Linked DNA regions of Homo sapiens. The protein of the gene in region 1 purifies or fractionates together with the protein of each later gene. This does not show direct contact. Each region holds a gene or a part of one and is shown in the gene's direction. Other genes may lie near its edges.

Region 1 (3,751 bases):
GGACAGCACACAGAGTGGGAGAGGAGCAGTTCCTCTGGGAAAAGAGGGTGCTGAATAGCAACAAATAGCAGCAATGTCCATGTGGCCTCGCAGCAGAAGGTGGTATTGAAACCAAGGGTTCCTACCTTAACACCCTAGAGGAATGACAACACTCATTTGGAAAAGGGCTTCTATGTGGTTATCTCAATGAATTCTTGCATCTATTCACTGAGGGAGGCAGGACAAGCATCGTCACCCCCATTTTCACATAAGGGAATGCTACGTTTTCTGTGTTACAGAAGCAGAAGCTATATGAGCCAGTGGTGATCCCTGTGGGCAAGCTGTTTCGACCAAATGAGAGACAAGTGGCTCAGCTGGCCAAGAAGGATTACCTAGGCAAGGCGACGGTAGGTGGGATTGCTCAGCTTCCCCTGAGTCTCCTGTGGCCCGGGCCATGTGGAGCAAGGTGGGAGGGACTCTTGAGAAGAGGGTAGCCTCCTTGTGGCTCTGTCCCTGGGATGGCAATGAGAGACTTGTTTATAGGACAGAGGTTTGGCTGAAAGATAGGCAACCATGTCTAGTTTATTTTCTCCAAGCTGCTCCCATTTCTCCCTTCCAGCTCGACCCTGGGTGAGAGCCACAGGGTTACTCACAGGATGCTGAGTCTTAGGGACTGAGCCAATGGAGGGAAAACACAGCCATGAGGAGCTCACTAAATGTGAAGAGAGGGCCAGGCAGGGTAGCTCATGCCTGTAATCCCAGTGCTTTGGAAGGCTGAAGTGGGAGGATCACTTGAGGCCAGGAGTTTGAGACCAGCCTAGCTAGTGGAGAGGCTGAGGTGAGAGGATCACTTGAGCCCAGGAGTTCAAGGCTACAGTGAGCTATGATTGCACCACTGTACTCTAGCTTGGGCAACAGATTGAGACTCTGTTTCTAAAAAATAAAAATAAATATGAAGAGAACATGTTAGGGAAAGAGATCAGCATGGGATCCTCTTGGATTAATGCTCCTTGTAGTTCACGTTTTAGTGGGCTGAGGAGTCTTTCCCCACTTCCACAGCCCTATGTTTAGACTATGTCTTAAATTGGACTTCTTCTAAATCCAGGTCTTGGCTGTGCATGGTGACTCATGCCTGTAATCCCAGCACTTTGGGAGGCTGAGGCAGGTGGATCACGAGGTCAGGAGTTCAAGACCAGGCTGGCCAACATGGTGAAACCCCATCTCTACTAAAAATACAAAATTAGCTGGGTGCTGCGGTGCATGCCTGTAATCCCAGCTACCTGGGAGGCTGAGGCAGGAGAATCGCTTGAATCCGGGTGGTGGAGGTTGCAGTGAGCTGAGATCATGCCATTGCACTCCAGCCTGGGCAACAAGAATGAAACTCCATCTCAAAATAGTAATAATAATAATAAATCCAAGTCTTAAATTCTTTCAGACATGGTCTGAAGTGAGTCAGCAGTGCCCTTCCAAAACCACATTTGACTTGACACATTCATAGGGCTAAAGTTGCCCAGTGGTCGGGTAGCTGGGTCTAGCATAGCAGCAGAGGTCAAGAAAGCCTGGGTGAGTGGAAGCCCTCCAAATATCTATCAACTGATGAATGAGTAATCAAAATGTGATATATCCATGCAACAGAATACTACGTAGCCATAAAAAGGAATGGAGTATGATTCATGATACAACATGGATGGACCTTGAAAACATTATGCTATGTGAAGGAAGCCAGATACGAAAGGCCACATGTTGTACAATTCCGTTTATAGGAAATATCTGGTGCAGCCTCTAAGCACTGAGAGAGCAGAGACCATGTCTGCTTGATCTCCACTGAGTCCTCACAGCCTGGCACAGTGCTAGACACATAACAGCTCTCAGCAAAAATGTTTTGATTATATGAATGAATGATGAAAATTATCTATAGTTTAAGCATATTTGTGAATAAAGCTAGCTTTACATCTGATTTTTAAAACTCAGAGAAGAGGGCTCAAGTCAGTCACAGAAAGCAAACCGGTTGTTGCCAGTTTAGGGGAAAGGGGAGTGTGGACACACTGCTTAATGGGTACAGCATTTTCTTCTGAGGTGATGAAAATATTTTGGAATTAGAGAGAGGCAGTAGTTGCACAGCATTGTGAATGTGATAAATGCCACTGAATCATTCACTTTAAAATGATTAATTTGGGCTGGGCGTGGTGGCTCATGCCTATAATCCCAGCACTTTGGGAGGCTGGATGGGTAGATCACCTGAGGTCAGAAGTTTGAGACCAGCCTGGCCAACATGGTGAAAACCTGTCTCTACTGAAAATACAAAAATTAGCCGGGCACAGTGGCGGGTGCCTGTAATATCAGCTACTCGGGAGGCTGAGGCAGGAGAATCACTTGAACCTGGAAGGCAGAGGTTGCAGTGAGCTGAGATCACGCCACTGCACTCCAGTCTGGGTAACAGAGCGTGACTCCGTCTCAAAAAAAAAAAAAAAAAAAAAGATAATTTGATGTTATACAAATTGCACCTCAATTAAAAACATTTCTTTTTTAAGAGAGAAGAAAGCAAGCCTGTGTTAGCAGGGGTGGGGTGAATGCTCGTTTCTTCAGTTGCTGAAATCCTAATCCAGAGGCTCAGGAATCTAATCCTTAGTTACTGTCCACGTCTGAAACCAGGCTCACGTAAGAACAGGTCTAGGGCATGAGCAAAGAGGGAGACCCAGAAGAATGGAAACAGTGCTGGCAGAGCCTCACACCCTCCTGTCCTTGATTTTAGGTCGTGGCATCTGTGGTGGATCAAGACAGTTTCTCTGGGTTTGCCCCTCTGCAACCACAGGTAAGGCAGTCCTGACCTTCTCCATGGACCTAGGTCTCGAGAGCTTTCTGTGAAGCATTCAATTCGAGAGACTATGTGTGCTGAGTTGCCTGATTGTAAGGGCTCCTTCAAGTGGCCCTCAGTGCAGCTGAGGGATCTGCCTGCCCTCTCTCAGTCCTGGTTTCCATGGCTGGTGAGGAAATAAGGCAGTGTCAGGCTTCACCCCAAGTCCTCTGAAGCTAACTCTCCTGCTTCCCCACAAATGCCGGTCTTCACATCTCTAAAGAGATCTGCTGATCCTCTCTCTGAAGCCTCAACTATTCTCTCAGGAAGCTGAAACACAAGCTATGGAAGGCTTATTAACAAAGCCTCTTCTTGAGTACAGGGGCAAGTGGGGAACCCTGTGGGGCCTGGGCCTGAGGTTTGGGCTCTCCTGGCTCTACCCATCTGCTCATGTGCAGGGGTTTCCTTCGGGAACACAGGCAGCGCACTGAGAGTGAACCCTTTTTCTGCCCAAGCTGGGCTTGGAGAGGTGAGCTCAGATGAACTGGATGATAGTGGATCTAGAAATGCACACAGAGCTTCCTTGTGAAGGAAAGAGGGGAAAACACATTAAGGAAAATACGAACTCTGTGGCAATGAACCTGTGATGGGCAAGAGTGTTGGTCAGCACTAGCAGAGGGCGGTTTTCTGAGCAGGGGCAGGTATGTTCCAGATCTAGATTCCTTGATCTCTTTCTTCACAATAAAGCTGATGAAAGCCTTGCTGAAGTCCCTTGAGCTTCAGTTCAGCCAGAGGCCATGAGGGGAATGCAGCCCAGGTAACTGGATTCCATGGTATTCAGTGTAGAACAGGGGAGGAGATTCTTGCCCAGTCAGTGGATCCTGTGTCAATTTTAAATACTCAGAAGTGGCCAGGCACAGTGGCTCACGCCTATAATCCCACCATTTTGGGAGGCTGAGGTGAGCAGATCACTTGAGG
Region 2 (3,751 bases), on another chromosome or scaffold:
TGTTTGGTTGTTTTCCTCTGTGTTTCCAGATTAGTTGATTATGAACAATAGTTACAATACATTGATTTTGTTTCTACACCTAAAGTTTATGATGTTAACTTTTTAAAAAATAAAAAATGTATTTAGTACATGCTTTATATGATTGGAGGGATAATGAAACATAATTATTTAAAAATAACATTTAAGTTGTGCCTGTAACTTTGATGTCTTTGATGCAAATCATAAATGTGTGGATTTTGTTAGGGCCTATTGTAATGTTATTCCCCAACAGACTAAAACACTGTGTATTTATATATGTATATATATAAATATATATGTATATATATTTTTTCTTTCTGGGGGATTACTTTCTTTTAGATGATGGATTTAGAAGAGGTAATACCCCTGGATTGCTGTCGCCTTGTTAAATATGATGAGTTTCATGATTATCTAGAACGGTCATATGAAGGAGAAGAAGATACACCAATGGGGCTTCTACTAGGTGGCGTCAAGTCAACATATATGTTTGATCTGCTGTTGGAGACGAGAAAGCCTGATCAGGTTTTCCAATCTTATAAACCTGGAGGTGAGCAATTTTACACTATTTTTAGTTGTTCTGTACTTAGAATTTTCATGAGAAAGTTTTTTTTTTTATTGTAGAAATGAACATAATTTAAATTTTGTATATGGTCTTAAAATGTAGAATAATTTTGACAGGTTGAGAAGTACTCAGCAACAGCTTGGAATTAAGTTCTAGATTACTTGCAAAGAGTTGTGTACATAATTTTAAAAACAACAAAAAACAACAAAGCTTCTAGCTTACGGTCTTCAGTGGGTTTTTTCTTCTCCAGTGGGCGGTACTGAATCATTCTGGATGCTGTCAATCCCTAAAGTTATCAATTGCTCTCTTAGGAAGATCTCTCTTTCTCTTTCTTTCTCTTTATGGAGAAGACCTTGGTCCAAAAAAGTATATTCCCATAAAGTCTCAGAAGTAGAGGCTGTTTTTCAGGTCTTCTTTGGAAGGGTGGATTCATTATCCCATCACTGTCAGCATTTACAATTTTTCGTCATCCTCTCTATTTCTACAGGTCCCAGGGACTTCATCTTTTCTTTCTTCATTAAATCTATCACATTCACTCAGCACATTGAGTTTGTTATTTTTTTTTCTTTGAGACTGCTTAGGAAAACCAAAATATCATGCCCCTAGTTTTCCCAGAGACAGTTTCCCTATAGACAGTTACATGGTCTGTTTTTGTCCAGAGTTTTCTATAATTACCATATGTAAATTGTAACAAATAGAAGAAAAGCAGAATGTTTATATAATTTTACAAAATCCATACTGTTTTGTCTTGGCCCTAACTCCTTTGCATCAGTGGTTAGTGAGAATTAGGTTCTCTGTGTTTTTTCCCTAAAAGTTGAACTTACAAAACTTTATTCTGCCCTTTTACAATAATGTTCTTCTGTGGATCCTGTATATCTCCTTTTTAAATGAAGGCCTCTGTTTACAGAGTAGGTTAGATGTAGTATTCTTTCAAGGAGTCTACGGCTCTTAAGTGGGAAAATTTTATTTCTGGAAACCTTATGATGTCTACTTCGACTTCTAAGACTCTACCCTATCTATAAAGAGTCCCTTAAGGACATTTCCTTGCTTTTTTTTTTTTTTTGCTAGACAAGAAAAAGAATGATTAGGATATAACATGAGTCAGCAGTAATACCACTTATTTGAAAGAGAACTCTAAATGCAAGTGTGGATTGTAAGACTTATAAAGTAGTCTTTATTCATTAATAATCAAGATCTTAGCAGAATATTTTGTCAAATTTAGATTAACAACGTAGGGAAAAAACTGAGGATTGACATAAAACATGAGGTTAAAACAGATACAGAATAACTGTGTATTAAGTACAATGTTTGAAGATCATTTATTTTTCAAGTGATTAAGAGTTTAATTGTAAACATAACCTTCTGAAAACAGAAGAGAATGGGATTAAATTTCAATATAAAAGATTTAAGTGAGAAAACAAAGGCATAATCAGAACAGTTTTTGTGTGGAATTTTCCTTGGGATATAGGAAATATTATTTTGAGGATAAGTCTTTGATGATGAACAAGGTGGCTTAATAAGGGGTTTGTTCAAAAGCAAGCAGGAGTGCTGTGTCACCTTTAATATTTGTTTTGCAGTAACTGGTGATTTATATTTATTCAGTGTTGTTTTCATCTGTACTTGGAAGTTTGGATTTGTCACCTGTTAGAAACACATTAAGAATGCATTACTCATGTGAAATACATTAAAAAATAACCTCCAATTCTGTGTTTATGTCTTCAAATGTGACAGAAGTGATGGTGAAAGTTCATGTTGTTGATCTAAAGGCAGAATCTGTAGCTGCTCCTATAACTGTTCGTGCTTACTTAAATCAGACAGTTACAGAATTCAAACAACTGATTTCAAAGGTAAGTTTTAAAAGGGGTCTGTAAATAAATTTTTGAGAGCCTGCTATGTACAAGACACACTATGTGACAGTTATGAATAAGATACATGCTTTACCTCCAGGAGCTAATTAATATTTGTAGTTAGGAGACAACTGTAGTTAAAAGAAACAGATTGAGTAAAGTGTGGAGGTAAGAAAGTGTAAGGCAAGTACATATAACAACTTATATGTGTTGGCTGGATTATCATAAAATACAGGATTGGAAATGTAAGTACAGTTTATTTCATGAAGAGCTTTAAACAGTAAACACGAAAGTTTGGGCTCCTTTTTGGCGTAGGCAATAAGTCGAGTTTTTGTTTTCGTCATTTTTAAGTGCGGCAATGCTGCATTTAGTGTCTGGTGACACTAGACTAGCGTTCCACATGCCTTGAGGGGAGTCAGGAATGGAGAGGAGGAAGCTGTTGAAATAATTCAAGTGCAGTTGTATGACTGGAAATGAGAGAAGGCATGGATTCCAAGAGAGATAGAATCTGTAGGACTTGTAATTGTTAAATGTTGGGGTAAAGCAGATGCACCGATGACCTGAGCCAGGGGTTTCAAACTTGGGTAACCAGAAAAGTAGGGATACATTAATAGAAATAGAGGAGGAAGGTGAGGCTGTAGACTTGACAGGGAAGGTGATGAATTAAATACTGGTGCCATTATGTGAGCTAGTGATAAAGAACATAGGCTCATTCCGATTTTTTGAGCTGGAAAAATATAACAATGAAAACATTCAAATTTTGGGGGGCAAAAGGATTAGTCCACACCAGACAAATGATTATCATCCTTACAAGGGTCCTGTACTCTGCAGAACCCTGAGCATACAAACGGCAGATTTTGCAGGGTTCTTGAACCGTAGGTTAATATTCCCTGGTGTAGTGGAAATTGTTCCATAATTACAAGTTGAGTCCAGTTTTCAGTCATTCATCTTATGGTAGTCTTGTCTTTCATCTCATTATCTGGGGTTGTAAATACCTGTTTAGCAGAGTTGTAGTGAACATTAATGAAAAATAAATAAATGCTCTGAGGAAAAAAATTGTAAGGCATTATGTAAGAGTTGGTGGTTATTATGTTCTAAAAAAAAGTCTATATTTTGACTTCTGTATATGACTTCTAACAATTTTGCTAAAGTAATAACCAAGAAACAAATCATTTTGTGAAATTATATTTTATGATTAAATTGCTTGTAAATGCATACTATGTTGGTATAATATACTGTATATTACATTTTTAAAATATGAATGACAAATGTAAAAAAAATTAGTTTAATAAGCACTCACACATAATACAAAAGAAAGAGACAC

The links. Proteins that work in one complex are often made in the same cells at the same time.
Region 2: the proteins of NCF2 (region 1) and USP47 purify together in Homo sapiens (affinity purification with mass spectrometry; 2 studies listed by BioGRID and IntAct, with this or other methods). This does not show direct contact.

The regions. Positions count from the first base shown.
Region 1 is NC_000001.11:183,569,820-183,573,570, reverse strand, and holds part of NCF2 (neutrophil cytosol factor 2), read left to right. Parts: intron 1-278; coding exon 279-386; intron 387-2,731; coding exon 2,732-2,791; intron 2,792-3,751. UniProt on the Homo sapiens protein: Subunit of the phagocyte NADPH oxidase complex that mediates the transfer of electrons from cytosolic NADPH to O2 to produce the superoxide anion (O2(-)).
Region 2 is NC_000011.10:11,935,946-11,939,696, forward strand, and holds part of USP47 (ubiquitin carboxyl-terminal hydrolase 47), read left to right. Parts: intron 1-357; coding exon 358-565; intron 566-2,311; coding exon 2,312-2,427; intron 2,428-3,751. UniProt on the Homo sapiens protein: Ubiquitin-specific protease that specifically deubiquitinates monoubiquitinated DNA polymerase beta (POLB), stabilizing POLB thereby playing a role in base-excision repair (BER). Acts as a regulator of cell growth and genome integrity.